Regions from separate parts of the Homo sapiens genome. Here regions 2, 3, 4 and 5 are each linked to region 1. The links come from fine-mapping of genetic effects on gene expression. A gene starts in region 1. Each other region holds a variant in brackets. All regions are shown on one strand. Distances are from middle to middle. Region 1 holds the start of SRBD1 (S1 RNA binding domain 1). Region 2 has its middle 7.5 kb from the start of TMEM247. Region 3 has its middle 100 kb from the start of LINC01121. Region 4 overlaps SRBD1 (S1 RNA binding domain 1). Region 5 overlaps SRBD1 (S1 RNA binding domain 1).

Evidence for each region. PIP is the estimated chance that this variant, and not a neighbour inherited with it, causes the effect. A credible set is the group of variants that fine-mapping cannot tell apart.
Region 2: its variant is the best candidate, but not a certain one, in a credible set for the expression of SRBD1 in prefrontal cortex (ROSMAP, PIP 0.89).
Region 3: its variant is the best candidate, but not a certain one, in a credible set for the expression of SRBD1 in monocytes (BLUEPRINT, PIP 0.58).
Region 4: its variant is the best candidate, but not a certain one, in a credible set for the expression of SRBD1 in T cells (TOPMed, PIP 0.59).
Region 5: its variant is the best candidate, but not a certain one, in a credible set for the expression of SRBD1 in whole blood (TOPMed, PIP 0.59).

What each region holds. Positions count from the first base shown.
Region 1 is chr2:45,608,335-45,614,899 of GRCh38, reverse strand. It overlaps SRBD1 (S1 RNA binding domain 1), which reads left to right and starts at 3,633. Exons shown (of 21, transcript NM_018079.5): 1 at 3,633-3,681. RefSeq lists an enhancer at 3,813-3,982.
Region 2 is chr2:46,468,824-46,475,388 of GRCh38, reverse strand. No RefSeq gene overlaps it. Among named protein-coding and RNA genes, the nearest start is that of TMEM247, 7.5 kb to the left of the region's middle. The variant G/A (reference allele first, on the strand shown) is at 2,657.
Region 3 is chr2:45,355,684-45,362,248 of GRCh38, reverse strand. No RefSeq gene overlaps it. Among named protein-coding and RNA genes, the nearest start is that of LINC01121, 100 kb to the right of the region's middle. The variant C/G (reference allele first, on the strand shown) is at 2,667.
Region 4 is chr2:45,538,929-45,545,493 of GRCh38, reverse strand. The region is part of intron 14 of SRBD1 (S1 RNA binding domain 1); the gene reads left to right. Among named protein-coding and RNA genes, the nearest start is that of SRBD1, 69 kb to the left of the region's middle. The variant A/G (reference allele first, on the strand shown) is at 3,276.
Region 5 is chr2:45,473,018-45,479,582 of GRCh38, reverse strand. SRBD1 (S1 RNA binding domain 1) reads left to right here. Exons shown (of 21, transcript NM_018079.5): 16 at 2,508-2,590. Among named protein-coding and RNA genes, the nearest start is that of SRBD1, 130 kb to the left of the region's middle. The variant A/T (reference allele first, on the strand shown) is at 2,493.

The DNA.
Region 1 (6,565 bases):
ATTATTATCATTTTTGCCTTTGCTAGTTGTATTAGAATTCTCCAGAGAAACAGAACTAGTAGGGTGTGTGTGTGTGTGTTTGTGTAATAAATACAGCATAAAGATATATGAGAATATTTTTTAGGGAATTAGCTCACAAAATTATAGAGGCTGAGAAGTCCAGTGATTGGCCATCTGCAAGCTGGAGGGCCAGGGAAGCTGGCAGTAGGGCTCAGTCCAAGTCTGAAGGTCTCAGAACCAGAGAAGCCAATGGTGTAACTCTCACTGCATGGCCAAAAGCCTGAGAACATGGGGCTGAGAGGGTACACTGATTTAAGTCCTGGAGTCCAAAGGAACATGCAGTTCTAATGCTTAAAGGCAGGAGAAAAAGTGTGTCCCAGCTCCAAAAGAGAGAGAAAGAAAATATTCCTTTCCTCTTTGTTCTATCTGGGCCTCAGCCAATTGGATAGTGTCCACCGAAATTGGGTGAGGGCAGATCTTCCTTACTTAGTCTACTGATTCAAATGTCAGTCTCTTCTGGAAATACTCTCACAGACACACACAGAAGTAATGTTTTATCAGCTGTCTGAGCATCCCTTAATCCAGTCAAGATGACACCCAAAATTAACCATCACACTGATTGACTCTCAGAGATAAAATGTTTGAATTTTCATAAGTACACTTGATTTTTAAAATGGCAACCCACCTTCTGTGTCAAGAGCTTTAACTTACTTTTCTCATAAGAGAAATTTGTTTGTACTCTAGACATATTATTGGGTCCAGGAGTTAGTGTACTATTTTTAATGAGTACCTATTATATGTCAAGCATTATTAGGCACTGTGTGGGTGGCGGGAGAAGGTGGAGAGGGGAGGAAAATTTGTTTTTACTTTAGACATGTTTTTGGGTCCAGGAGTTAGTCTACTATATTATTGAGTACCTATTATATGTTAAGCATTATTAGGCACTGTGTAGGTGGAGGGAGAAGTTGGAGAGGGGGAGATAAAAAATTACCAAGAGTTAGTTCCTAGATCCAAATATCTATTAGTAGGTGAAACAGTTGCATCTATTAATATATTAAGAATTTTTGTTCTTATGAAACTTAGTTTGAGGCCAATAGAGAGAATAGCTTTGTTATGTTTCAGGTGGTTAGACAGTACTTTATTTAGAGTATTTAGAGATTCGACAGTTCTGGAGCACCTTAAACATTGAGAGTCTCACTGGCCACCATAGTGGAGCGAGAAAAGGTCTTTGCTTTGAGTTTGTGGTACAGCTGGCCATCTGTATCTGCATTCATGGATATGGAACCTGCAGATGTGGTGGGCCAACTTTTTCTATCACTGATTGGTTGAGTATCTGTAAATTTTGCTATCTGTGGGGGGTCCTCAGACCAATCCCCTGTGGATAGACAGCAAATTGTATGTGGATACCTTTCAGAGTACTTGCTTTGGAGTAAAGCAGATTATTGGATTTGAATCTCAGATCTACAATTTATTAGCTGATGTGACCTTAGATGAATTATTTAACTTCTTTATACCTGGTATTCTCATTTATAAAAATGGTTTAATAGCAATATTGCATTGGGGTAATATGTGAATTATATACATAAATACATCTAAAAGCATTAACTTAGTGCCTGGCACAGGTAAGTAATCAATAAAGGTAAGTTATTACTATTATTATTACATTTGCCCTGGGGAGCTAGAACCCATAGGGGAAGGACTTGAAAACAGATAATAACATACAAATGATAATGTATCAGTGAATATCATGGGAAGAGCTATATACTTTGGAGGGATAAAACAACCTCCATCAAATCCAAAACATGTTTTCATTACTCCCAAACCCTATTGCATAGTCTCAGGTGGGTGTCCGGATTATTCCAGGCTTTCAGTCTAAACCCATGAATTTCTTGGAATTCAGCACTTGAGATCCAAAAGTAAACAATAGATTGGGCAATGTCCTAGACAGAAAAGGCAGTTTTTGTGGGAGGGCCTGTTTTATACTTAAGTGATTACAAATTTTCCTTGACAGCGTGTAGTGGGAGTGACTCTCTTATAGAATTCCAAGGGAAATATTCTCTGGACAGTCCTTATTGGCCTTTAGAGTAGGCCACTACCTACATACTTTAATTTTAGAGAACCTGCTTCAGATTTTATTTTCCCCAGATGTCTGATGTCTAAAATCTTAACAGGCTATTTATTTTTGTGATTTTTTTTTTCTTCCCCAGCTGTAAGGCAAAAATCCCTTGTGGGGAGAGGAAAGTCAAGCTTCAATGCTTTGCTGGCCCACTCTTACTCTCCTCCTCACTGTAGTGTGGCTACTACCTGCATACCCAACCCTTGAAGCTAGACTGTTTTGCTTGGGTGTCTGTTTCCTCTGGCTGTATCTGGTTCCTACTCTTGGTCGTAAATTCCTCCAGGGCAGGACTTATGTCAAAAGACTTTGCAGTATATTAGTTCACCTTTACCCTTACTACCTCTGCAATGATTGGAATGTCCCCTTCAAAAATTCAAGTTGAAACTTGTCATTGTAATAGTATGAAGAGGTGGGACCTTTAGGAAATGATTAGGTCATGAATGAGTTAATTCCATTATCACAGGAGGGTTAGTTATTTCGGGAGTCAATTGGGTTCACATGCCTCCCCCACCCCTACCCCAGTATGATGCCCTCCATCATATTTTGACACAACAATAATGCCCTCTGTCTTGGACTTCCCAGCCTTCAGAACTACAAGCCAAACAAATCTCTTTCTTTATAAATCTACCAGTCTATGGTATTTGGTTACAGCAGCAGAAAATTGACCAAGACAACCCCTTACCATAAACCTGAGTAGCAAATGCAACATCAAAAGTAGGTGAATAGTAAGTAGTACATTATTGTTGTTGATTTCTATGATCTGGTTTCTCTTCCCACAATCCTGAACGGTAAGGTGTTCTCTAGTATTTCTTCAGGACCATAAATTGTGAAGGAGACTGTGATTGTAGTAGACAATTCTAGGCCTTCTGGAACCATCACTAAAGGCAACATACGACTGTGCTAATTAAAAGGAAAAAAAAATCCCTAAACAATCTCGGAAACTGATCTTTCCTGGCCAACAATCTCAGATATAGAAGATTAGATTTACTAAATTTAGAAAGAATCCTTTTTTTTTTCCCCCAATCACAAAAATTATCCAGTAAAATCTATGCTCACTTCCGGTAGATCTGCAACAAGGCACGGTCACAGGTCATTTCAATAACTTGCTAGGCTCTTCAGTACTCAGAGTCCCTGGAAATAAGTCATTAGCAGTGGAAAGCTGCTTTTTAGAATTTTCTAAAACAAATCCATGGGGTTTTGATCTGCTAAATTCGAATGTAGACAACAGCAGCCTTATTTCCCTACTTTTATAATCTAATTTATTTGGCTGTATCTGTGGGCTTAAGAGTTTAGTGTTCTTGGTAAATAACACGTAAAAAAAAAGTCATTTTTCATTTCTACGAACCAGCCCCACCCCGGCGCTCCCTCGGGATCCTCGCTCTAGCCCCGCCTCCGTCCAGCCTGGCTCCGCCCCGTTCGGTAGCGCCGCGCCTTGGAGGTCTGTGGCTAACTTGGTCCGGAAGAAGCGAGGCGGACCTTCTGGCGTTTGAAAAACTTCCGGCGGGAACCGGAAGGTGCGGTGGCACTCACGGAATCTCGGGTCTTCTGACGTGCCGGGCGGGAAGGTGAGCTGTGCGTGCGCCTTGGCGGTCGTCTTGCGGGTTCTCAAGAGCCCGGCGTCCGGGCTCCGGGATCTTTGGGGCCATTAAAAAAGTTCTGAGCGCTCATTTGGGCAATAACACCCCTTTTTTAAAAGTGAGAAGTTCATTACATTTTACTGTCAGCGGTCTCTCACAACCGACCACCCGAAAACCCCTCCTAGCTACCTCGTGACACCTCTTTTCAGCCAAATTGCTGCAGCTCTTAGCGCATAACAGACATAGAAAAGCCTGGGCAAGCCTGTTTTTTTTTTTTTTGAGACGGAGTCTCCCTCTGTCGCCCAGGCTGGAGTGTAGTGGAGCGATCTCGGCTCACTGCAAGCTCCGCCTCCCGGATTCACGCCATTCGCCTGCCTCAGCCTCCCGAGTAGCTGGGGCTACAGGCGCCCGTCATCACACCCGGCTAATTTACCTGGATTGTTTTTATACCTAAAATTATCGGAGGTGGGAGAGGAAGCACCCTTTTCACGGTCATGGTGGCCCTGTCTGAATCAACTGCACCTTCTGTAGTGCGCCTGGCATGTAGGAGGCGCTCAGTAACCGGAGGAAAGGAATGAATTGGGAACTCTCTAGGCAACTTTCCTCGAACCCCTCACGTGACATGTCATTAACATATTGTGTGTGGAATGGGAAACGAGACTAGTCTTGGTGTTCCAGGCACTGGGCTATAGTCCTTTGCCACATATCTTTCCCCTTTGAGTAAACTGTTTCACCTCATTGGGTCTCAGATTTCTGAATATAGCGGGACTGTCTGATCTCAGGTTCTTTCAGCTCTAGTATTTTGTTTTTGTGACTTGGGAATCTGCTAACATTCAAGCACTCTGTTGGTCCTTCATGGAAACTTGTTTAGGTGCTTCTTAAGAAATTGTCCTCCTTTGTTTGCCTTCTTGAATTTAAATTTTTTTTTCCAATTTTAATTTAGTATTTGTTAGTGTGCACGTCCTTTTGCCCCTTTGTCCTGATTTGCAGTCGTCCTAGTTTAGTGGCTCTTCCCTTAGTAACATCATAGCAACCTCCAAATTATTGGTTTGGAATATGCTCATGTGCCTACAGTGATTAAGATAGTTTGAAAGGAGGGAAAAATCCCAAGTCACTGAAGAATAGGAATATTCTTATGTGCCATCACTTCTTCAGAAAGAGATGAATGCAATGTGTGGCATTGCCTAAGAGTGGTGGAAAATAAATGTATATTCCTCTGTAGAGACCATATTTGTACATATTATGTTCATTTAATAGTTGTAGGGCATCTGTTAAGTGCTAGGTTCTATGATATGGAAGTGAATAAGGCACATGCATTTCCTTCTTTCATGGTATTTACTCTCTTGACAGCAGTGCAAGCAATAAACAAGTAAAATAAAAATAATTACAGATTGTGTTATAACCTACTGTATACAGGAAGTAAATAGGCTCCTTTTAAAATATAATTGAGAAACCTATTTTAGGCCTGAAATGTTAAGATCTAAGGGATGCAAGGAGCCAGCCAATTGACAAGCAGGGGGAAGAATACTCCAGGCAGAGAGTACCTGAGGTGGGAAAGAATGTTATGACAAGAGCTGAGGAGCTCCAGCAAGTAGTAAAGGTGGTTAGAAAGGTGAGCAGGGCTCAGTCCGACAGGGCCTTTTCAAAGGCCTCATAAAAATGTGGCTTGATTCTAAGTGAAGGATGGGGTGGGAAGTAATTCGTTGTTTCTAAAGCATATTCTAAATGATCTTGAGTTGATAAGTGGAGAATGAGTTGCAGGGGCAAGAGTGGAAGTAGGGAGGGCAGTTAAGAGGCGAGTGTGGTAGTTCAAGTGAGGGAGGTTGAGGACTAAAGGCTCACTGAAGATCGTGGAGATTCAAGACATTTTGGAGGAGGATCTTATGTGACTTACTAATAGTCTGGATATGTGAGATGAAAGAAAAAAAGATTTGTAACATTTTGACTTAGCAAATGGAACTTTGGAGGATGATAATGTGTTCATTTTCTTGATTGTAGTGATATGTATACATATGTCAAAACATCAAATTTGCACACTTTAAACATGTGCAGTGTATTGCATGTCAATTATATGTCAATGAAGCTGTTAAAGAATTTTCTGGCCAGGCGCCATGGCTCACACTTGTAATCCCAGCACTTTGGGAGGCCGAGGCAGGCAGATCACCTGAGGCCAGGAGTTCGAGACCAGCCTGGCCAACGTGACGAACCCCGTCTCTATCAAAAATAGAAAAATTAGCTGGGTGTGGTGGTACACGCCTGTAATCCCAGTTACTTAGGAGGCTAAGGCAGGAGAATTGCTTGAACCTGGGAGGCAGAGTTTGCAGTGAGCTGAGATCACTCCAGGCTGGGTGACAGAGTGAGACCGTCTCAAAAAAAAAAAAAAATTTTTTTTTTCAAGGTTCTGGCTTAGCAAATAGGTGGGTGCCACTTATTGAGATGGGAAGGACTGGAATAGGAACAGGTTTTAGAGCAAGAAATGGTCATCAAGAGTTCCATTGTGGATGTGTTAAGTTAACTGTGAGACATCTAAATAGTTTCAGAGACAGGCAGTTTATTATAGAAATCTGAATGTTAAAGGCACGGTTTGGGATGGAGGGATTAGGATTGTTAATAAGTAGGTGACATCGGTATGTAAAACCGTGGAGATGGATGAGGTTTTGGTTAATCTAACAAGTTTTATGACACAAAGTAAGAGGATATGGGAGTAGTGGAGATGGAGAAACAGGCCTCAAGAATATTGGTGTTTAAACTGGAGAATACATACTCCTGGGGGTGTACCTGTCGTAGGTAGTTTTAAAGACATAATTTCCAAGTCTTCAGCTTTTGTATATATTCTTTCTAAATCTGATCTGCTTGAAATTGGCTTGTGTGT
Region 2 (6,565 bases), 860 kb before region 1:
CTAGAACTCAGGATTAAGAAACTCACTCAAAACCGCTCAGCTACATGGAAACTGAACAACTTGCTCCTGAATGACTACTGGGTACATAATGAAATGAAGGCAGAAATAAAGATGTTCTTTGAAACCAATGAGAACAAAGACACAACACACCAGAATCTCTGGCACATATTCAAAGCAGTGTGTAGAGGGAAATTTATAGCACTAAATGCCCACAAGAGAAAGCACGAAAGATCTAAAATTGACACCCTAACATCAGAATTAAAAGAACTAGAGAAGCAAGAGCAAACACATTCAAAAGCTAGCAGAAGGCAAGAAATAAATGAGATCAGAGCAGAACTGAAGGAGAAAGAGACACAAAAAACCCTTCAAAAAGTCAATGAATCCAGGAGCTGGTTTTTTGAAAAGATCAACAAAATTGATAGAGTGCTAGTAAGACTAATAAAGAAGAAAAGAGAGAAGACTCAAATAGACACAATAAAAAATGATAAAGGGGCTACCACCACCGATCCCACAGAAATACAAACTATCATCAGAGAGTACTATAAACACCTCTATGGAAATAAACTAGAAAATCTAGAAGAAATGGATAAATTCCTGAACACATATATCCTCCCAAGACTAAACCAGGAAGAAGTTGAATCCCTGAATAGAACAATTAACAGGCTCTGAAATTGAGGCAATAATTAATAGCCTACCAAGCAAAAAAAGTCCAGGATCAGACAGATTCACAGCCAAATTCTACCAGAGGTACAAAGAGGAGCTGGTACCATTCCTTCTGAAACTATTCCAATGAATAGAAAAAGAGGGAATCCTCCCTAACTCATTTTACAAGGCCAGCATCATCCTGATACCAAAGCCTGGCAGAGACACAACAAAAAAAGAGAATTTTAGATCAATATCCCTGATGAACGTCGATACAAAAATCCTCAATAAAATACTGGCAAACCGAATCCAGCAGCACACCAAAAAGTTTATCCACCACGATCAAGTTGGCTTCATCCCTGGGATGCAAGGCTGGTTCAACATATGCAAATCAATAAACATAATCCATCATATAAACAAAACCAAAGACAAAAACCACATGAGTATCTCAATAGATACAGAAAAGGCCTTCAACAAAATTCAACAGCCCTTCATGCTAAAAACTCCCAATAAATTAGGTGTTGATGGGATATATCTCAAAATAATAAGAGCTATTTATGACAACCCCACAGCCAGTATCATACTGAATGGGCAAAAGCTGGAAGCATTCCCTTTGAAAACTGGCACAAGACAGGGATGCCCTCTCTCACCTCTCCTATTCAACATAGTGTTGGAAATTCTGGCCAGGGCAATCAGGCAGGAGAAAGAAATAAAGGGTATTCAATTAGGAGAAGAGGAAGTCAGATTGTCCCTGTTTGCAGATGACATGATTGTTTATTTAGAAAACCCCTTAGTCTCAGCCCAAAATCTCCTTAAGCTGATAAGCAACTTCAGCAAAGTCTCAGGATACAAAATCAATGTGCAAAAATCACAAGCATTCCTATGCACCAATAACAGACAAACAGAGAGCCAAATGATGAGTGAACTCCAATTCATAATTGCTTCAAAGAGAATAAAATACTTAGGAATCCAACTTACAAGGGATGTGAAGGACCTCTTCAAGGAGAACTACAAACCACTGCTCAAGGAAATAAGAGAGAATACAAACAAATGGAAGAACATTCCATGCTCATGGATAGGAATAATCAATATCGTGAAAATGGCCATACTTCCCAAGGTAATTTATAGATTCAATGCCATCCCCATCAAGCTATCAATGACTTTCTTCAAAAAATTAGAAAAAAAAAACTACTCTAAAGTTCATATAGAACCAAAAAAGAGCCCACATTGCCAAGACAACCCTAAGCCAAAAGAACAAAGCTGGAGGCATTACACTACCTGACTTCAAACTATACTACAAGGCTACAGTAACCAAAACAGCATGATACTGGCACCAAAACAGAAATATAGATCAATGGAACAGAACAGAGCCTTCAGAAATAATACCACACATCTACAACCATGTGATCTTTGACAAACCTGACAAAAACAAGCAATGGGGAAAGATTCCCTATTTAATAAATGGTGCTGGGAAAACTGGCTAGCCATATGTAGAAAGCTGAAACAGGATCCCTTCCTTACACCTTATACAAAAATTAGTTCACTATGGATTAAAGACTTTAATGTTTGACCTGAAACCATAAAAACCCTAGAAGAAAACCTAGGCAATACCATTCAGGACATAGGCATGGGCAAGGACTTCACGACTAAAACACCAAAAGCGATGGCAACAAAAGCCAGAATTGACCAATGGGATCTAATTAAACCAAAGAGCTTCTGCACAGCAAAAGAAACTACCATCAGAGTGAACAGGCAACCTACAGAATGGGAAAAATGTTTACAATCTACCCATCTGACAAAGGGCTAATATCCAGAATCCACAAAGAACTTAAACAAATTTACAAGAAAAAATCAACCCCATCAAAAAGTGGGTGAAGGATATGAACAGACACTTCTCAAAAGAAGACATTTATGCAGCCAATAGACACATGAAAAAATGCTCATCATCACTGGCCATCAGAGAAATGCAAATCAAAACCACAATGAGATACCATCTCACACTAGTTAGAATGGC[G/A]ATCATTAAAAAGTCAGGAAACAACAGGTGCTGGAGAGGATGTGGAGAAATAGGAACACTTTTACACTGTTGGTGGGACTGTAAACTAGTTCAACCATTGTGGAAGACAGTGTGGCAACTCCTCAAGGATCTAAAACTAGAAATACCATTTGACCCAGCCATCCCATTACTGGGTATATACCCAAAGGATTATAAATCATGCTGCTATAAAGGCACATGCACACGTATGTTTATTGCGGCACTATTCACAATAGCAAAGACTTGGAACCAACCCAAATGTCCATGGATGATAGACTGGATTAAGAAAATGTGGCACATATACACCATGGAATACTATGCAGCCATAAAAAATGATGAGTTCATGTCCTTTGTAGGGACATGGATGAAGCTGGAAACCATTATTCTCATCAAAGTATCGCAAGGACAGAAAACCAAACACCGCATGTTCTCATAGGTGGGAATTGAATAATGAGAACACTTGGACACGGGGTGGGGAACATCACACACTGGGGCCTGTTGAGGGGTGGGGGGAAGGGGGAGGGATAGCATTAAGAGATATACCTAATGTATATGATGAGTTAATGGGTGCAGCACACCAACATGGCACATGTATACATATGTAACAAACCTGTACATTGTGCACATGTACCCTAGAACTTAAGTATAATAATAAATTAGATAGGGTGTTTAGCCCACAAGCTGCCCATACAGGGACTAGGCAAAAGAGAACCATGATCACCATTATTCTGAGCAGTAGATTTTGCCACTGGGGAGAGGAGAATGCTCAAGGTTCACTTTCTGTCTTTGCAAATCGTTAACTGAACCATGGCTTTCCCCTCCCAACATTATGGTGGTGACCATGTAAATGATCTCACAGCTGTTGTGTAAGATATCTATCCTGCCTCAGGCACTACTAGGAGTAGGATTACCAGATAGATACAGGATTCCCAGTTAAATCTGAATTTTACATAAATTTTAGTATAAATATGTTCTAAAAATTGGATGGGACAGATTTCTAAAAAGTTATTTGTCTGTAATTCAAATTTAACTGGGAATCCTGTATTTTTATTTGTTAAACCTGGCAATCTTAACCAGCAGAGATCTGCTTAAAGAAACAATGACATATGTACAAATAATCCACTGCTGTTAAATCACCAAGTATGGAAATGCACAATAAGTACTATGGGTAGTTGTCAGCTATAGATCAAACAACCCTAAATGATCAGTGGCCCACAACAATAAACATTTCCTTAGCTCAGACATCTAAAGGTAGGCTGATTTAGGCTGGATTCAACTGGGGGAGCTTGGCCGAGGCAGCTTTGTTTCATGTGTCTCTTATCTTCCTCTTGGGAATAGTGGGGTAGCTTAGGCATACCCTTTGCTCGGGGATGGAAGAAGTACAAGAGGCCTTGGAGCTGGCACACCATCACTTCCATCTTATGTTATTGGAGAAAGCCAGTTGTATGGGGAAACTCAAAGGATGGTGAAACGTACTCTGCCCAGTTAGTGGGAGGAACCACAAAGAAAGATAAAAGGTCTCGATATAGGGGATGAAGAACTGGGGCCAATCAGGCAATGTACCATAGGAGTCAAGAGGTCAGGGCTCAGGGTCTCATGCCTGTAATCCCAGTACTTTGTGAGGCTGAGTCTAGAAGATCGCTTGAGCCCAGGAGTTCAAGACCAGCCTGGGCAACATAGTGGGAATCCACCTCTATAAAAAAAAAAAAAAATTAGCTGGGCATGGTAGCATGTACTCGGGGTCCTAGCTACTTGAAAGGTGGAGGTGTGAGGATCGCTTGAGCCCACTTAAGTGAGCTGTGATCTTGCCACTGCACTTCAACCTGGGTGACAGAGTCTGACTAACTCAAAAAAAAAAAGGATCAGGGTTGATGTGCCTGGAGTAGCTGAGGAAGGTTTGGTGGAAGAGGGAACATGAAGGGTGGGTGGGATTTGGGTGAGAGGAAAGGATCAGCATGAGTAAAGTGTCAATTGATCCTCATCATCTGTTGCCTTCTGTTTCTCCTCTCTGCCCTTCCCCTAGGAGGCAGACCTCCATGAAAGTGTACTAATTCATTAAGCAGAGCAATGTATTCCAAAGCAACATACAGTCTAGCATTCTCATTTCCCTGTCTCTAGACCCCTGTCCTTTAGGGAACTTCCCAGAAGTGGAGGAAACAGGTCTTACGAGCCTTGGGTCGGTTTGGCACTGGTGACAGTATGAAAAGAGCTTCTGCTTTCTCTGTTGAGTTCAGAGAAAGGAAGTGTATAGTAAAGCCATATGCAAGGGTAAAGGAGACAAGAACACGTGGGAGCCCAGCAACAGGGATGAGGGATGAGCTGGCCTAGCAGGGACTGTGCTGGATTCAGGGCAATTCTGAGACCAGCAGCCAGAGTTGGTGCAGCTTCACATGTGCCTTGTCATTCGTATAACTCAGCTGATTTCGGTGTTTCTGCTTCTCCGTGTCCCCTCACTTCCCATCAACAGCCTTCCTCACCCCCGTCAACCCACAACCTCCAACCTCATACTTCACTGTAGGCAAGGTTCCTGCTTCCTCCTGACTTCAGCTTACTCATAACTTCAGCTTCTAATGGTTCTTCATAGCCTCAACTGTATGGCCTCTCGGTATGCCTTCTGTGTTGTTTGTCCTACTTAAGTCACTCATGATTTCCTGGTAGACCTTTCCAAGGGCAGGAATCAGAATAACCTGGCTTATCTCTACTGGGACAGAGCTTTTCATTCTAGGGAAGCCTGTTATTGGGCTACCATGTGATCCTGTCTCCCTTACCCCTGCAAATGGCTTTACTATAAACCTTTCTCTGAGCTCAGTGGAGGAGGCGGAGGCTCTTTTCACACTGTCACGAGTGCCAAACCAACCCAAGGCTCATGCAACCAGTCTTCTCAACTTCTGGAAAATTCCCTGAAGGACTGGTATCTAGAGACAGGAAAATGAGAATGCTAGACTCTGTGTTGCTTTGTATTGTTTTGGTTAATGAATTAATGCAGTTTCATGGAGGTATGCCTCCTAGGGGAAGGGCAGAGAGGAAACATAGAGGCAACAGATGATGAGGATCATTATCAGATGGGGAAGGTGCCCAGCCCAGTTCAGTCTGGTGAAGTGGAAGGATGGGGAGGGCAGGGTGATACGGCACAGTGCACAGCAGCCTCGGATTGTCTGTCAGCAGGAGCTGCAGATGGGTCAGTTTCCCTTAGAAGGGACAGTGGGAGTAGCAAGCACCATGTTGAAGATTGATGGGCACATTCACAGAGCAACGTATCAATTCTAGATTTCACAACCAGATGAGAGACTTGTGTATTAGTACAGCGCGCACAGGCTTTCATGTACATTATCTCATTTGATTCTCACAATGCCCTTGTGAGGCCATTTAAAGCAGGTACAGTGATGCTGCCTGATAAACAAGAAAATCGAGTCACTCGGGCAGATGAGGTGATGCGTCTCTGCATGCAAAGGATGTTAGTGGTTGAGCATTCCATGACTGGAATGCAGGCTTCCCATCTCCTTTCCCTGTGTCTTTATACAATATTACAAAGATGGTCTTTGGGGCCTGTAACTCTTCAGAGGTGAGAGGATTTTCTGCCTCATAAAAATTAGCATATCCATAGAGGTGTATTACAGCGTTATTTGTAACAGCAAAAGACTGGAAACAAATTTCCACCAGAAGGGATCTGGTTAAACAATTAGTGCTGCATCCTTATGAATACCATGTAGATGCTAAAAAGAACAAGACGAAAGAAAAAATGAGAATACAGTAGCTTCATCAGTGCAAATACCTTGTTCTTCAAGATTTTTTTTTTTTTTTCAGGACAGGGTCTCACTCTGTCACTTAGGCTGGGGTGCATTGGCACTGTCATGGCTCAATTGCCGCCTTGACCTCCTGGGCTCAAGAGAT
Region 3 (6,565 bases), 250 kb after region 1:
CTTCATTTAAGACTATTAGCGTACAGAATAGAAATGAGAAAAATAATGAAATGAAATGAAAGCAAATGAATGAGTAGAAAGGCTTAGAAGAGAAATGATAGTTACGGAAGACAAGCCAAGGGGTTCAATGTAGGGTCTTCAAAGAAGGCAGCAGAAATAATGGACTGAACAAATATTTAAAGGTAAAAAAATCTTTCCTGAAATAAAAGAGAGGTATGAATCTTTATATGGAAAGGACACAGCCAGAAAAAAAAATGAGCCAATATGGTCAACTCAGAGATATATCCTCAAAAAATTACTGAACTTCACATCAAAGAATCCTTTGAGAAGAGAGGAGAAAGAAAGAAAGGAAGAAAGAAAGAGAAAGAGAAAGAAAGAAAGAAAAAAGGAAGAAAAAAGAACAGAAGAAAAAGAGAGAGGGAGAGAGAGAGAAAGAAAGAAGGAAAGAAAGCAATTGATTTCTTATAGGAGGTAATATAGGGCTTTAACCGACAAGCCTCAGAGTGACTAAAAGACAATAGAACATACTTTCTTGAACTATCATTCTAATACTGTACTAAAGCAACCAACAAACCGTTTTGAATATATGAGAACATAGTGGAGGGAATATTATTTCATTGAGCTTTTTTGATGAATAAGAGCATGCATTTTAATTACCTAGGAGAAGACTGGAAAACTTCAGGAAAATAATCTGGTGGTGAGCCCTGAGTCTATTTAACTGCAGAACTAAAACTAAAACAAATGTAGGGTTTTTGATAACAGAAGAGAATGTAAATATAAGCATAGATAAACCAAGAGATTGTGAAAAAGCATTAAAGTAATAAAAGTTGGGAGGTGAAGGGATAAACAGATGTTACAAGTACAACAAAATCTTTAAAATCTGGGAGGTCAAAAGATAATAAAGATGTGAATATCTTTTTATAATGATTAAAAACACTTTTTTATGGAAGTAAAACACATATATAAAAATACAGAAATTCTAAGTATACATATTGTTGCATTTTCACAAAGTGAAAATACGAATATACTCATATATAAAGGACCCAGATGGAGAACTAGAACATTATGAGAACACAGGAGCCTCCCTCTCACCTCTTTACAGTCATTATGCCTCCCTCAAGGGCATCCACTGTACTTATTTCTAACTGAAGTATTAGTTTTGTCTGTTTTTGTATGTTATATAATTAGATTAATGTACTGTGATGTGTCTGGTTTCTTTTGCTCCATATTATGTTTTTGAGATTCTTTCATTTTGTTGCATATAAAAATAGCTCATTGATTTATTATGTATGTAGAGTACTCAATTATATGAGTATAGCATAATTTATTTATACACTTGACTGTTGATGGGCATTTGGGCTGGTTTTAGTAGGAGGTTATTATAACTAATTCTGCTGTGGACATTCTTATATTTGTCTTCTTGGTGAACGAACATACGCATGGTTTTCTGTGGGGAAAAATTATTTGAGGGGAAAAAGAAAAGTATTAATTAAATTTTTTAAAAAATAGTATCCCTATCATATAAAATGTAAACTCTGACTATTGATTTAACCAAAAAATTATAATATAACTATAAAAAGAAGATGAAAGAAAGGAAGGGGGTAGGTTGAAGAGAGCTTTATCTACTGAAATAAGAAATTAATAGGTAATGTCTAATATTAATAAATCAGGAAAGAATATTGTAAAATATTGTATTATAAAGCTGGTTTTAACATTTAACATTTATAACATTCAAAGCCAGCTCTGCTATTTAGGAATTATGGGATATCAAGTACTCAATTTCTCTGTGCCTCAGTTTCCCAATTTGCAAAATGGTGATACAATCTCACAGTGTTGTGCTGTGCTGCTAATAAGATAATGATAACATCATCTTAATGAAATATCAGCTAGTATCAAAGTGAACAACAGTTGTCCCAAATCCCATAGCTAGCCTGGAATCCTCATATCTGTGGTACAGTATGAATTTAGAAATTGCCGGTTTGCAGTGGGATATGTTCATAACTAGCCCTGATCCAAATTATTTTAGATAGGAAAATATGAAATTCCAAATTCTAGCATTTTCCATATATATATTTATTTTTACTAACATCTTGAGCCAGTCAATTTAGTAGAAGATTGTGTTTTGAAATCAGGCCTGTCAGTGATGTTCTAGATGTCTCCCAAAAATTACAATGAAAGGAATAAGCTCTGACCAGGTTCTTTTTCTTCCACCTGCTTGTTATTTCCAGGAGTAAGAAGGCAGGAGTGATCTATCCATTGCTGGTCTCTTGGAAGGAGATGTTAATTAGCAATGTTATATAAAATTCAGATGCAGGAAAAAGGGTAGAAATCAAAGACCTAACACCATCCATTTGGAATTCCTGCAGCACTTTTTACCAGGTCCATACCACTTTTCTTACCACTTTATCATAAACCATTTTTTTGTTTTTTGTTTTGTGCTTATGGCTCTATTATTTCAGGGTATGGATTGTATCTTTTTCACTAATCCGTGTCAACGAGTATTTATTGAGTCCCTACTATATATTGACTGTGCTAAGTGAGGGAGCAAGAAAGATGATTTAAAAATTTTCCTATCCTGAAGGAGCTTAAAATCTAGCTGTGGAGCATTTTTGCACTAAGAATTGACTCTACAGAGATATCCACCAAAGTTCTCCAAGTTACAGTTA[C/G]AAGGATATTCATTGCACCATTGTTTGTAGTAGGAAAATAAGAGGGGTGAGGGGACAACTTAAATGTCCATCAATACAGGACTGGTTAAATTGTAGTTCACCATACCCCATCAGCCTTTCTTAACCCACGTCCTCATCCAAACCCCAGAAAACAGAAAGTGTTTTGAGTGACTGTTTTCTTAATTCTCCCAAGCGTTGTATGTGACTAGTACCATTCTGAATGCGTAGGAGAAAACGTAATTCCAGATATTCATTGCTGATTTAAAGTGCTTGGGCTTAATTCTTTCATAGGACCAAAGTTAATATGGAAATATTTCCAAGTGATACTGTAAAGTGAGAAAAAGATATAAAGTGAGAAAAGCAAGATGGACCACAAAGTATATAATTAATGTCTTCTGTGTAAATAAAGAAGCTACTAATATAGTCTCTTACATGTGCAGAGGGTTAGGTGAACTAAGGCTGGATACTGGGCTCAAAGCCTTGAGCACGGAGATGAGAGACAGGAGTGGCCTCAGTTCCTGGGAGTTGAGTTCGTGCAGGTACAGGCCAGGGAGGCAGGTCTTCTGTCCTTGGCACCAGCCAGCCCTGGCCTTTCTTTCTTGCCTCAGGCCCTTTTCCATCTCTTAGATGGGGCCCCACTAATTTGTCAGTTTGGGGATGAATTTAGTGTGTGTTCCACTGGCATGAAGTCAGGAGGAAAATAAATCCAAGGGAATTTCCATTTGGTCCTGACTCCTACTCCACATGGCCCCTGCCCCATCAGCCTTACCCTGGGGTTGGGTTTCAGATGGTTCCTGTGCATTTACAAATAAAACCAGGCTGCTCTGTGCACGCTTGTGAGGTGATGCCTGGGGCCTCGCACGGTTGGGCCAGAGATTGATACGGTGTGTGCACGCCTGGGCCAATCCAACCCTTTTGATCTATTTCTGAAAGCAGCTTTTTGCCTCCTGCTTCAAGTGATTGATTAAGTTAGGATCTCTTTTAGGAATTCTCTCCACTCATGCCTCCTCACCAGCTTACAATGAGCCCTGCCAAATTTTACTTTCCTTTTATGCTGCAGATTGTTCTGTTCCAAGTGGGTAAATGGAAACTGTGTTCCTAAGATGCAGCCAGTTACCTTGGAATTCCTGTTCTCCATTCCGTATGGTTCAGGCACCCTCTTATCACATCATCAGTCATGTTTCTAGCTGGGTTCTGGCCTTATGGTTAGGGAGCAGCTTTGCTTCAGAGCTTTCCTTCCCCTGCGGGCTCCCCCACTCCCACTTTGGTGTGAGAATCATGGGGAACCAGGGGTGACACCATTTATTTTAAAACAAGCCAGCACACATGTTTGTAGGCTTTTTAAAGCCATAGACTGTAAGTGGACACTTCCGGTGTTCCTCAGGCCCCAGCTGGAGAAGTGGCCCTTGGTTCCATGGGTCCTCGTGGAATGGGGATCCAAGGTGATTAAAAAGCACCAGCTTTGCGGCACTCAGACCTGTTGCCACTCCTGCCTCCAAGCACGGTGTTTTCTTGTAAAAACTGGGATTCAAGTTTTCATCTCTCATGAGTGGTGAGGAAGATGGACATAAACAATTAGAAGTATAAGCACCTTCCCATCTCCATTTTGAAGTCCTCCTTCTACCTCCCAAACCTTACATTGTCTTCTCCAAAGTGGCCATCCTGCAATGCCAGTGAGCCTGGCCCTCAGGGAAGGACATTGCCAGAGCTCTTTCCTCCTCCTCCTCCCCTGTGCCCTCTCACAGCACCCGGCTCACTGTATACCAAGCATTTCTTTCAGTTTCCCTGAGTTGGTGAAGTCTTGTTGAAATGATCCAGTGTGGTCTCAGTTCTGCTGTAAGAAATTGGAGCTAGGGTGCAAGTGTTAATAGTTCAGAGGTCTTGGGGCAGGGGTAGGGGAACTTTGAGACAAGAATGAGGCGGAGGAGGAAAGGCCCAGCCACACTTTCTCAACCTTGCAAAACCTGAGTTTTGCTTTATGAAGGCAACTAGTCATTCTCTTTATCATCTGCACTGTCCTGTTAGCAACTCTACTGTTTTGGTTTCTTTTGGGGACCATTTTTCCCCCACAAAGAAAGGCCTTCCTACAAATCTAGGGCTTTTAGTTTTAAAAATTACTCCATGAGAGTTACTACGTACGTGATCATAAGTATAGTAATATGGCATTAAGTTTAGAGGTTATTTATCCATTCACTAATTTACTCAGCAAATATTCCTTGAGTGCCTCTTATGTACCAAACACGATTCAAGCCCTAAGGATATAACAAATAACAAAAAAGACAAAATATCTACCCTCATGGGTCTGATATGGGAAAGATGTCAACAACGACAGCAAAATAGATAGTTTCAGTTAGTGACAATGAAGAAAAATGAACAAGGAAAGGGGGTGAAGAGTGATGAGGACATGGGGAAGGGAGAGTAGATGGGCTAGATCCTCTTTGGAAGGTATTTCGGTGGACACGAGAGTGAAATGAGGTTGGAACTATACAAAGACCCAGGAGAAGAACACTGAGGAGGTAGAAAGGTCCAGAGGCAAGAAACAGGGCTCAAGGAAAAGCAAGAAGGTCAAAGTGACCAGAGCACAGTATGCAAGGAAGGCATGGCAGGAAATGAGGCCACACTGGGCGGGGCATTGTAGTCCACAGGAGGAGTTTGGGATCTTATTCTAGGCATACAGTAAAGCCACGAGAGGATTTTGAGTAGTGGAGTGACATGGTTTGATTTATGGTTTTCAAACATCACTATGACTGCTGTGTGGAGAACAGACTAGTGAGGAGAAAGGAGGAAGCAAGAAGACGCACGAAACGGCAGCAGTAGCCCAGGCAGGTGGGGTTGGCTGGCTTCATACACTGCCGTAGTGGTCAAGGTCATGAGAAGCCATCAAATTCAGCGTATCTTTTGAGTATGGAGCCAACGGAACTTGCTGAAGGATTGCATATGGGGTGTGAGAGAAAAGTGAGTACTCAAAAATGACTCCTAGGATTTTGGCCAGAGTGGCTGAACAGCAATGCTATTTCCTGAGAAAGGGAAATGTGGAGAGGGAGCTGGTTTGGGATAGGAATCATGAGATGTGTTTTGGACGTGTTGACTTTGGGATACTTATCCGATATCCAAGTATCTGGAGCTCAGGAAGAGTCTGGGTCTGGAGCTGTAAATATAGGCATCATCGTTGATCAGATGAGGGCCATGGGACTGGACAGAGTTACTCAGGGAGGTGGAGAAGAGGATAGGTCCAAGGACAGCCATAGGGCTCTCCAACACTTACAAACCTGGAAGTGAAGACCTCACCTGAGCTCACCCTTCCTGGTCTCATGGTTTTGTGGGAATCTCCACTTGGTTTCCTAGCCCCCCATCCAGGATCAAGTTTTACATCTTGGTGGCTTAAGGCTTCTGCCCATGGGGACTTTGGAGATCTCACGGATCTAGTCCCTGGCCCAGGTCCTGGTGGCCTTCTTGTGCTCTAGTCAGAAGCCCTGGGTTCTCTTCACAAGCACGGAGCCTGTGTCTGGACCTAGAATGAACACACTGATGGCTCCAGTCCTAGTACTGTTTCCATGTTATACCTGAACCACAGAGTTGATTATTTTGTGACAGGAGACATGACTATTTTGTGACACTTTGATTTTCCCCAATGCCATGTGTTTGGTAATATGGGGCGGGCCATCTAGGAGGCAAGGGACGTTGCTGTCCTGACTGGGGAACCAACATTTTGATTTTCAAGATCATTTTCTCTGTGGTTTAAGCTCACTCCTTGGATCTCTCCAAACACTGGTTGTCGCTGAGTCATTCACTCTATATTTATTGACAGATACTATGAACCTTGCAAAATACAGTATAAGACATGGTTCCTGCCCTCTAGGAGCTTAGAATCAGGCCAGGCAATTGAAAATTGCTAGCAT
Region 4 (6,565 bases), 69 kb after region 1:
ATACATTTGTAGTGGTTATAAGTACAACTTTCAAATCATAAAAAATATTAAGTAGTGAAGATGTCTTCAGTTTTTTCTTCATTTGCTTATAGAATATCCCTTTATTGAACTTTAGGCAGTATGTACTATTAGAAAGGAAAGGATGAACTGTGGGGTCAGACAAATCTGGGTTCATCTGTTTTTTTTTTTTTTTTTTTTTTTTTTTTTTTTAATTGAGACAGAGTCTCGCTCTGTCACCCAGGCTGGAGTGCAGTGGCACAATCTTGGCTCACTGCAAGCTCTGTGTCCCAGGTTCATGCCACTCTCCTGCCTCAGCCTCCCGAGTAGCTGGAACTGCAGGCACCCGCCACCACACCCGGCTAATTTTTTGTATTTTTAGTAGAGATGGAGTTTCACCGTGTTAGCCAGGATGATCTTGATCTCTTAACCTCGTGATCCGCCTGCCTCAGCCTCCCAAAGTGCTGCGATTACAGGCATGAGCCACCGCGCCCGGCCTCATCTTTTGTTTTAATCATTTACTAGTTATGTAGGTTTTGAAGAGTTACTTAGCCTTTCTTAGCTTCACTTTCCTTCATTTTTAAAATGGGGAAAAGAATACCTACCTTACAGGTTTTTTAACAGTATTAAAAGTGAGATAACATAAATTAAAACACTAAGGGTTTAATAAACAATATGTTTTTTTATGAGTGTGTTTGTATTTGTTTATATACGTACTTTTATTATAAATATAAATTATATGTCTTTAAAAGTGCTGTGAAATTAGATGCAGTATTTTCTTATGCAAATTAATAAACTTACATAAAGTTTATTTTCACCTTGATGCAATAGGGATGATAGTAAAATCTACCACTTTGGATAGTAATAATGTCTATCGTACTTGTGTAAAATCTATGTATTGTGGTATCATGAGATGTTCAGTCTTATTAATGGATATGAATTAGATGCCATTTTAGTTGAGCCTCACCATAGGTGCTGTGGTATGAAGTGAAGTATGTGGGCTATAGAGACGACCTAGGTTCAGGCCTGCCACCTACTGCCTCTGATTAGCCATATAGTTTTAATCCTCTTTTAGCTTTAGCATCTTCATCTTTGGAAATGTTACTTACCTGTTAGCACCATTGACCACTGTGAAGATTTAAAATGGAATGTGTTATGTATCTCCTATTTTTAAGGCTATTTGTAGTAAATATGTTAAGTGTGGGCTAATCTTTGAGTTTAGGGAGACCCCATTAATATAAATTTTTTTTTTTTTTTTTTTTTTGAGCCGGAGTCTTGCTTTGTTACCCAGGCGGGAGTGCAGTGGCGCGATCTTGGTTCATTGCAAGCTCCACCTCCCAGGTTCATGCCATTCTCCTGCCTCAACCTCCCGAGTAGCTGGGACTACAGGTGCCCGCCACCATGCCTGGCTAATTTTTTTATAGTTTTTAGTAGAGATGGGTTTTCACCGTATTAGCCAGGATCTTTGGTGCCTTCTTTGCACTTTTATGAATATAGTCTCTATTAGGCATTTTCTTTCAGAAGAGCCCCATTTTGTTGCAATTTAAGACTTGCTTTGGATGGTAGTCTTTCTCCTATAGTCTGTTTTCTCCTTTCTGCTATAATTATTTGGGTTTTAAAATCTACCCGTGTGGTTAATTATGGTAGCTATTTTCTACAGTTGAACCATTTTTGCAGTTCTGATTTAACTCTACTTACACTGTATTAGTCTTTTAATGTACTTTTTGCATTTGTTTGCTAATATGTGCTTTTGAAGTTTTTAAATGATGCAGATATCTAATTGGAATTTATAGCAAGTGCTTTAGAAAAATCAGCTGTTTAATTTCATTTTATTATCATTTTGCCAATTCAAAGTGCCTGTTTGAGAAAACCATGTTTTCTCATCTTACACTTTGAAGTTACACTGAAATTGAAATCTCCAGTCTTTCTCTGGCAGCCATTTTTAATACCTTCTGAACAGATAATCTGATAGGTTAATCTATAATCTTGTCAGCCACTCATCCTGAAAAACCTTTTCCAGCCATATCTACCAGCACATTTCCTCTTATCTGTTCCTTCCAACACTCTTTGCCCTGACATGCTGCCATAGGTTAACAAATGCCATGATATATATCCTAATTCATAAACCCCAGGAAACCTGACCCATTCATCTGTCTTTTCTCTCATTCATTTCTCTCCCTACCCTTAAAATACCTTACGAATCATGATACTTACACATATTAGGGGGCAAGTCATCCAAAGGTGCAAATTCTAATTACCAAAGGAGCAAAAAGTTAAACTGGAGTTAAGTTGCAGAATGTAACCATGCTGAGTCTCAGTTATCACATACTGAATTGTGATAGTTGAAGTTGAAATGTTCATGAAAAAATGAAAGTTGAAAATGTTCGTGAAAAATTCTACAGTTTTATGGGTCATTTGTTTAAAGTATATGCTAGAATGGTTTGCAGTTTTCAATCTTTTGACATATGGTAGGCACTCATTTTGCTTTTGTAGTTATACATTAGTTTGTGTTTTTTAGATTTATACATAATGAAATCATACAGTGTATAATCTTTTATTGGCTTCTTTCATGGAGCATGATTATTTTGAGATTTCATCCTTGTTGCTGCAGAAACCAGTGGTTCTTTTTATTCCTGAACAGTATTCATTGTTTGGCTGTATCACAATTAGTTTATTCAATCACCTGTTGATGGATATTCGAGTTGTTGCTAGTTTTTTGCTACTACCAATAAAGCAGCATGAGCATTCATTTACAAGTCTGTATGGATATATGCTGTCATTTCTCTTAGGTAAATAGCTAGGTGTGGAAAGTCTGTGTTGTGTGGTATATGGTATACGGTACATGTTTAACTTAAGAAACTGTCAAGCTTTTTCCCAAGATGGTTGTACCATCTTACTTTCCCACCAACAATGTATCAGAATTCTAGTGGTGGCAGTGGCAGCCCATCTGGAGCAGCTGCTGGGAAGACACTGGCTGCAGCAGGGGAGTTGTGGCTTGGGTTGCATGCTCCACAGGTGATGGGAGCCCCACCTCCTACCAGGTTAGTGGGGCAGAGGAGCCCCATGCTCCTGGGCGCAGTTGCAGCTGCCCAGCTACAGCTCTGGACCTGGGCATCCCTGCACTCTCAGGGGCCTGCGATGCCCCTTCCCCTGCAGGCTCGGAAGTACCTGCTCCACCTCCCTGGCCTCTCCCTGCTCCCAGCACCCGCTCCAGAACAGAGCAAAGTTGTGGCCGAGCCTAGGCACTGTTGCGACCTGGACAGGTGTGCCTGCACTCG[A/G]GGCAGTGCTGACACCAGCCCCTGCTGCCTCAGCCTGTTCAGGATTTTGGGCACCAACCAACACAGGAGTGAGGCTGGGGTGGGGTGATGGCTAAGGGCAGCTTGGCACAGGCCTACAGGTGTCCCCTGGCACAAACAGCCCATGCACCATGGATGCATGCTGATGGTGGGAGGCAGACATTCCTGTGCAGCAAGGGGCAGGTCTCAGTGAAACCCCCACCTCCAAGCCAGGGCCTACGTGAAGTCTGGAGGCCAGGTTGCCAGTTCTGGGTGGAGTCTGTGGCCGGGAGTGTGAACTTATGGTACTTTTTCCAGACATGCCCATGGCTGCCCATGGACCAATCAGCATGCATTCCTCCCTTCTGAGCCCATAAAAACCCTGGACTCAGCCAGACTGACACAAATGTTGGGACTACCAGCTATGGGAAGGAGCCACCCACTTTGGGTCTGCTCTCTGCTGAGAGCTGGACACTTGTCAGGAGACCTGTCTGCAGAATGGGGCTACCCACTGCCCATCTCCTCTCCACTGGGAGCTGGACACTCATTGGGATAACCTGCCTGCAGAAAGGGGCTACCCACTGTGGGTCTCCTCTCTGCTGAGAGCTAGACACTCATTGGGACAACCTGCCTGCGGAAAGGAGCTGCCCGCTTTGGGTCTTCTGAGAGCTGTTCTGTCACTCAGTGAAGTTCCTCTCTGCCTTGCTCACCCTCCAGTTGTCCACATACCTCATTCTTCTTGGACATGGGACAAGAACTCTGGTTCCACCAAATGGTGGATCTGAAACAGCTGTAACACAAACAGGGCTGAAACATGCCCTCCTGCCTGCCATGCTGCAGACCTTGAGAAGGAGAAAAGAGCTGCAGCCCTTTGGGGAGCCCAGACCTAGGTGCTCCCTAAGCCAGGGCTATGGCACCCTCTTTGGGACTCTCTGGTTCCTGGCATCTCCCACCTTCCAGGAACCACTGTGTTCCCCTCGTCCAGATGTGGGTGTCTGCAGTGGTAGTTGCATGTGATATATCTGGTCCAGCCACAGCCTTGCATGGCACCACCTGCCCTGCCACAGCTGGCACGCCTAGCTCTGCACAGTGGCCGGACCCTGTGCTCACTCACACACCGCTCACCGCACTACGCCTGGCTCACCCTTGGCAGGGTGAGATCTGGGCCAGTAGCACCAGCCAAGCACAGCCTGCCAGCTTGAGTGAGTGGAACGAGCCCAGGGGGCCTGAGCAAAACTCGGACAAAGGCACCACTGGCCACAGAGGTGTCTGGCTGGAAAAGTGACACCCTAAGGATTCCGTAACACTAGTTTCTCTGTATCCTCAATGGAATTATGAAGTTATGGTCAGTGCTTGGTATGGTCAGCCTTTTAAATTTAGCTGCCCTAGTGGATATGTAGTGATATCTCATTGTGGTTTTAATCTGCATTTTCCTAGTGATTAATGATCATGAGCATCTTCATTTGCTTATTTGCCATCCATGTATCTTCTTTAGTGAGGTATCTGTTCAAATCTTTGCATTTAAAAAAATGGATTGTTTTCCTTGTGATTATTGAATAAGAGTATTTTTATTTATTCTGAATTAAGCCCTTTGTCAGGTATATGTTTCATAAACATTTTTTCCCAGTCTGTGACTTTTCACTTTTTTTTAAACAGGATCTTTTGAATGGCAAAAATTTTAGTTTTGAGAAAGTCCAATTTATCAATTTTTTGGTATAGTTTTTGCTTTTTGTTTTCTATTCTGGAAATTTTGGCAAAATCAAGGTTACTGTGATTTTCTTCTGTTTTGTACTAGAAGTTTTATAGTTTTAACTCATTAAGTCTGTAATTTAATTTTTGGAGAATTGACATCCACTCATTTAATTTTTTTTTTTTTTTTTTAAGATGGACTCTCTCTCTGTCGCCCAGGCTGGAGTGCAGCAGCACAATCTCAGCTCACTGCAGCCTCTGCCTCCTGGGTTCAAGTGATTCTCCTGCCTCAGCCTCCTGAGTAGCTGGGATTACAGGCGCCTGCCACCATGCCCAGCTAATTTTTGTATTTTTAGTAGAGACAGGGTTTCACTGTGTTGGTCAGGCTGGTCTTGAACTCCTGACCTCATGATCCGCCTGCCATGGCCTCCCAAAGTGCTGGGGTTACAGGCGTGAGCCACCATGCCTGGCCCATTCAATTTTTAATTTCAGTTTTATTTTTCATCTAGAAGTTCTGTGTTTTTCAAATCTGCTTGATGATTCTGTCACTTTTTTCCTGGCTATATTTTCAAGCCTGTCTTTTTTTAAACCATGTTAAATTTTGCATTTTACAATCTGTGTAATAATTCTAGAATCCTTGTAATTTTATTTCTGCTATATGCTGTAATTGCTGGTTCTGCTTTGTGATGCTTTCTTTCCTTTTTTGTTCAGTTCTTAAGGTAAGCTTTTTATTTTGGTGGAACTTTGTGGGAATTCATTTAGGCCTGGACTGATGGTAAGTTGCTTCAAAGAGGATTTGCATTTGCTTCTGCTACACTCCCTTAGATACTACCAGTTTGGGATCACTTAAATTAAATTCTCGGCTTGAGTTTTTTTCTGACCACCCAGGTAGTGTGAATTTAGGCTGCAGACCAGACAGATGGCTTATAGTTCCATATTCTCATCAGTAGTTCCCCGCTACATCAGCCCGTGACTGAGTTTGAGATAGTCCATTTTCATTGTGATCTCCTGGGGGTAGAGTATAGTGAGTTATAGTTCTGTTTTATTCTTACACTGAGGGTTTAACCTAACTCTGGAGTCCTAGCTTTACATATGTGAGAGTAGGTGGGGGATCTTTTGTTAACATCTATATCTTAGGTGGATCCTGGGTTTTCTATTTTATTCTTCTGGTTCTGTGAAGCTCTGTGAGGCCATGAAACTTGAAAATAAAATGCACTTGGTTCAGCAGATGCCCTCAGCTGAAAGTCAGCTTCAGAAATCAAGGTTCCCACATATACTTCATTTTTTTTTTTTAGCAAAAAAATTTCTTTCTTGCCAACTCATAGATCTCTTTAAGAAGATAGGTCTTTTAGTTGTTTTCAGTGAAAGATGAATCCAGGTAGCTCATTTCTCATATTGGTTTTGTATTTTAAATTTTCTTTAAATGTAAAATTTGCTATTTTCCGACACCAAAGTAAGACCATAAAAAAAAATAGATAATGATCTTTTCAATCATCTAAATTTACACTTGAGTTAAGAATTACTTGTTTCTTTTAGTTCTTTCCTCAGGATATCTATGCCTGTGGAAACATGTACATGATATAGCCTTCATTCTCTGGCAATTT
Region 5 (6,565 bases), 140 kb after region 1:
CCTCACCTCTCTCAGCTTTCATGGAATTGAAGAGAGTTAGGACCTTGCTCAGGATTACACTTTGGCTTAAGGGAATGTTGTGGCTGGTTTAATCACTCAGACTTTCTCCATATCAGCAAAAAGCTGTTTTGCTTTCTTATCATTTGTGTGTCCACTGGAGTCACACTTTTAATTTCCTTCAAGAACTCTTCCTTTGCATTCACAACTTGGCTAACTGACCCAAGAGGCCTACCTTTCAGCCTTTCTTGGCTTTCAACATGTCTTTTGAATAAGCTTCATTATTTCTAGCTTTTGATTTAAAGTGAGAGACGTGCGACTCTTCCTTTTACTTGAACACTTAAGAGGCCATTGTAGGGTTATTTATTGGCCTGATTTCAATACCGTTGTGTGTCGGGGAATAGGGAGGCCCCAGGAGAGGGAGGGAGGGGAATAGCCAGTTGGTGGAGCAGTCAGGACACAGACATCATTTATTGATTAAGTTTGTTACCTTATAGGTGTGGTTCGTGGTGTTCTAAAGCAATTACAATAGTGATATCAAAGATCATTGGTCACAGATTATCATAACAAATATAATTAAATTTTGAAATATTTCTGAGAGTTACCAAAATGTAACACAGTGACCAGAAGTGTGCCCATGCTATTGGAAAAATGGCACCAATAGACTTGCCCAACTCAGGGTTGCCGCAAATTTCCAACTTGGAAGAAATGTGGTGTCTGAGAAGCACAATAAAGCAAAATGCAATACAATGAGGTATCCCTGTATTCTTAAATTCTTGACTTGGTTTACTGTTGTGGGGGTTTTTGTTGTTGTTTTTACTCAGAGTATTTTGGCAATGTATATGTGTTGAAAATCATTCTTATTGCATTACACATTTAAATGTTAGGCTAAAGAAATAATATTTGCTTTAGAGAAATTCAAGTATATCTCTACTTTAAATCTGTAATTATAAATGTGGTTATTAGAAGAAAGCATTTCTCCTATCACCTGCAATGCTTGCACTAACTAACCTTTTGTGATTGATTTCTTTAAATAATAAAGGTTTATGTGAAGGCCTTGGAATCCCCGTCTCTTCTGGGAGAAAAATAGATTGTGTAACGCCAGCTCAGCGTTCTCTAAGCTTGCTTTGCAAGGAGCTATTGTCACTATATATTAGATGTAGTAATAAAGGATGTGAAAAAGACTTGAATGATCATGTGTTGAACTTGATGTTCACAGTAGATAAGTAGATCTTATGTCTGATTAGAGAAGTGGTACAAATCAGCGACTGGAGAATCTGAGAGTCACTTGCAAGAGATGACTTTTGTTTCCAGACCTTGAACAGCTTAACATGGAAACAGGCATAGGATTTTCTTTGATGGTCTTAATATTTTCACTTAATGAATTTATATTTCATCTAACCTGTATGAGAAGGTGACACTGATTAGCTTCCATGTGTTTTGAAAATGGAAGCAGTTCATATATATATAAAGACTCAGTGTAAATATGCTACTGGAGAGGGAGGCTGCCTTTAGAACTATTCATAAGAGTTGTAATAGTTATCTTTTTTTTCTAGCTAAATCTATCTTATAAACGAAATTAGATGTGAATTTTTATTGATATTTGGTAAAAAAAAAAAGGACAATAAATGACGAACAAGTAAAATCATGACACAGTTAAAGGAATGTTTGAAATTAACTCTAAAGTTTCTTGAGCATGGATTGTAATGGTCAAGAAAGGGATGTAATTAGAACTATGGTGTGTTAAGAGACAAGCAGTTGGGACAGAAGGAGGATCACTTGCCAGGGCAATCTTGCAGTCATATTCAAGGCCACATGAGTATATTCATTAGCCAAGTAACTTGATCTCTGGTTGCATTAAGATATGATTCTGCTGGGCGCAGTAGCTCATGCCTCTAATCCCAACACTTTGGAGGGGTGAGGCAAGAGGATTGCTTGAGCCCAGGAGTTCAAAGCTGCAGTGAACTGAGATGGCACCACTGCACTCTATCCAGGGTAACAGAGTGAGACCCTATCTCTAAAAAAAAGGAACTTTAAAAAAGGAGGTAATTCCGTCACTTGTTCATTATTTGGGGGATCGAGTTCTAATAAGCATATTTGACATATAAATATATTTGTAATAATGCAGAATTATTTAAAACAAGGTTTTGCTTCCTCTGTGAAGCATGAGGTATCCTATTATGCTTTACGTAAAGAATGAAGAATGAATAGGTAATCATGTAAGTATAGGGAGTAAACGTTTTATTTGTTTTTCCAAATCTATAATCCTGTCAAACTACTTTGTGTTCAAGAATGCCTAGGAGTTCTGATGACATAATTCATGAAATTTTGCATTTACTTTTTGTGTGGGGAAAAAAGAGAACTTTGAAATTTAAATTGTTGGCCTTTTTTAGAGGGATGATGAGGAGGGACAGGATTAAGTACTTACATTATGAGAAACTAATGTAAGTAATTATTAGGTACTGCTTTTCACATTAAGTCATACTTGTTTTCTG[A/T]TTCTGTTTTTTCAGTTTCCATAGCAAGGCGTGTACAAGATCCATTAGCTGAGCTAGTGAAAATTGAGCCAAAGCACATTGGAGTTGGAATGTATCAGGTAAAGCTATGTGGATCATTTAATTTATGAAATCCATCAATACAAGGAGCAGTACTCAAACCTGGGATAGTAATTAAGTGTCTGTGGGAGTAGATTCCCATTTTCAAGGTTATACAGTTTGTGGAAAGTAGGAGTTTTAAGTCATCAGGGAAGGAGGGAATTATTTTTGTCATTGTTGTTCTCGTGTTAATGATTTTGATTAAGACTTAGAATTGACTGTGGTCAGATTGAAAGACTATGAAAACACTAGATGAAACTAATAACTAATTTGGAGAGAGAGCCTCTTCTTTTAACATTATTATAAAAATGGTGGTGCTATCTAAAATAATTACAATAGTGATATCATGCATTGAACTTGATCTTCACAGTAGATAAGTAGATCTTATGTGTGATTAGAGAAGTGGTAGGTAATAATAGTACTCGTTTTTGTTGTTACTGTATTTTTAATTCTTGAGGTTGTATGTGTTCATTGGGCAATTCAAGACAGCACTAAACCTTGGCAGAGTGAATTTATGGTGATAGCAAAATGGTATGTGGGGAAGTTGTCTCCAGAAGGCTTGGGTCACATTGTTTTCCTCCTTGTCAAAAGCTATTAAATGTGAAATAGAGTATTTCCTTCTGTATAATTTTTATGGGATTTGAATGATAGGTACTATACTACACTTTTTCTAAAGAAATATATTATGTCATGGAATCTGTGACTACTAGATATGGAAGACACCTTAGAATTCATGTAACCCTACCCCCCTCATTTGATAGAAAAAGAGGCAGTGTCCTGGAGTACTTAAGACATTTACCCAAGATCTCATGGTAGCAAAGCTTAGATTAACCTGTCATATATTGAGATTCAACTGGGAATATTTCCATTTTATAGCAAGTTGGACTAAGGCATTCAGACCTTTAACTGGACTTACTCATTTCAGAAAGATAGTTGCTAAAGGGACTGATCTAGCTACAAGTAGATAGAAATGACTGGTATCTAAAGAGTACAACTGGCTAGGTGCAGTGGCTCATGCCTGTAATCCCAGCACTTTGGGAGGCCAAGGCAGGTGGATCACTTGAGGTCAAGAGTTTGAGACCAGCCTGGCCAACATGACAAAACTCTGTCTCTACTAAGAATACAAAAATTAGCCGGGTATGGTGGCGCGCACCTGTAGTCCCAACTACGTGGAAGGCTGAGGCAGGACAATCGCTTGAACCCAGGAGGCAGAGGTTGCAGTGAGCCAAGATTGTGCCACTGCACTCTAGCCTGGGTGACAGAGCGAGACTCCATCTCGAGAAAGAAAAAGTACAGCTATAACAGTTTTGTGATATAGGCATTATAGTGAAGAGGAATTATATTCATTCAAGATAAAGTTATGGAGCATCTTGGCAAGATAGTGGAATAAAGAGAAGATTCCAAATTTATGAAACCTGGGCAGGCTAATAAGCTATTGACTTCAAAGAGATCTTTAAGTAAATAGTGGAGACCTAACCTCCAGATTGGGATTCAGAGATAACGTTTAATGTGAAAGACTTTGGGATTCATTTTAACAACAGTGAGAAGTAATAGAAGAGGTTTAAGCAAGGGGGGGTGGCACAATCTGATTTATATTTTTAAGCATTGGCTCTGGCTGATCTGGGAAGAGTGACTTAGGAAGAAGAGAAGCAATAGAACAGCTAGGAGGCTCTTGTACTAGCCCAGGTGAGAAATAATAGTGCTTGGACAAAGTTAATGGCAGTAAAGATGGAAAGAAGTCAAGTCTGTTTTGCAGGGTTTGTGTGGTGATAAGTGAGGGAAAGGAATTATGAAGAACTTGCTCCAAGGGTTCTGATATGTGGATGATGCTTGAGTAGAGCAGGTTTGGTGGGTTAAGATCAGTAATTCAGTTTTAGACATGTTAAGTTTGAGATGCCTATAAGAAATCCAAGGAAAGATGTCAAGTAGGAGTTGGATATATGAGTCTGAGATTTAAAAAAATAGCCATATTAACATTGGACTACTCACTGTTCAGCAAATAATGAAACTAAGAACGTCATCAAGATGGTGGGCTGAATTAATGATATTCTTTAATTACACTACCATCATCAGCTGCATATTCAGAACTCCTAATTCCATGAGTTGACAGAAAAGGTGTACATGTGTACCTATATAAATACATATTTATTTGAATAAATTGATAACAGCATGGGAAAACAAGAAAGGGTCCCTCCCATTAGTGGATGGAAATCTCAGGAATTCCTGACAGATACTAAGCATGGGGAATCACACTCATGGAGAAATAAAACCTGGTGGAGTCACAGTTCAAAACATATACAGATCATTGTGTATCATTATGTTCTTGAGGTAGGTGCAGTTCCCGGTAGAGCCAAACTAGTCAGATTCAAATAGTAGGGAGAGGGTCTGAAGTATTAGATAAGAAGATACATATAGCAAAGCTAGGCCTGTACTGACCTCCTCCTCCAGTATACTGTGAATCCAAGCTGAAGCACTGACCTTAACATAGGCCAGAGAGGCTGGGAGATAGCTCAAGAGACCTTCGAATGTCAGGAAGCTCAAGGAGCCTCATCCTGAGAAGATAAATTCCTGCCATGTACATGACACCTGGCATGATGTCCCACATTTCCCACATTATCACCGGAGGTGGGGAATAGTAAACAGAAACAGCATACACAGACAGACAGTTAGGGACTCTGAAACGATCTCACTACCAAGAATGATTAAACATTTGAGGAAAACCTATGGTAGACAAATGAGGCACCAAACTTAATAAACAAAAAGTAATAGCGAGTGAGACAATGAATAAGTAACAGAGACTTTGAAATAAGTAAAAGTAAGATTCATAGAGAGAAAAGAGATTATTGCATTTATAAAGAAATATGTATTAAAATGAATTCAAACCAATCAAATATCTTAGAATTTAAGAATGTAATTATCAGGATTAAAATGCATAATTGGACTAAATAGAGTGGACACGGTTAAAAGCAAATTAATGAATTGGAAGGTTGAATTCCTTCAGAATGCAGTTTTGAACTGAAAAAGGTGGAAAGCATGAACAAAAAGTCACATGATACAGAGGACGTTCTAAACCTTCAGCGTTCATCTGATGTAAAATTGAAATAGTATGGAGTTATAATCACAGAAGTAATAGGAAATTTTCCTGAACTGAAGACAGACAAGTCTTCTGAAAACACCTTATGAATGCAGAAGTAAAGAATAACAAAAGGCCAACACTAAATTCCTGCTTATGAAATTTCAGAATACGTGATAAAGAGGAACTGACTAAAAGTATTCAGAGAGCAAACAGTTTATCTGCAAAGGAAAGAATGAGATTGACAACAGTCCTATTATTGATAAAAAATAAATGATAGAAGATAGAATGCAGTAGTTGTGGAGTTGTGGGAAAAAACATTTTGAACTCATAATTCTAAATCAGGCAAACCATCAATTTAGTGTGAGTGGAAAATAAAAACAATTTTGAACCTTCTCTGATTGTTTCACACCTTCTTTGAAAGAATTGATGGAAGTACTCCCTTCCAAAAAGCAGGGGAGTGTCCAAAGAAGGGAAAGACATAACATGGGAAACATGTACACACAGTAAAATGTATAGTTGAGCCTGATAGTTTTTAAAATCTATAATGTTAATCTTTAAATATTTAAGTCTAGATCAGATCAGTTCAACATGGGAGAGTAGAAGAAAAAGAAATGATAAAAAGTATTAAGATTCTTTTTCAGGAAAAAGATTCAGATATAAATTAACTCTAGAATTTGATTAAAAATATAACCTGAAACATATGAAGAACAACCACCAATAAGATATTTAATATAAATCATGAGAGTAAAATGTAAAAAGTTTATAATTTCATCCAAAGGTAGAGAAAAGAAAATAAGAAAGTATAGGAAATAAACAACAAAATATAAGGAGATAGGAATAAGTAATAGGTATTTAAAAGTGAATGGGCTAACTTCCCCTATTAATAGAACTTAAGACTTTA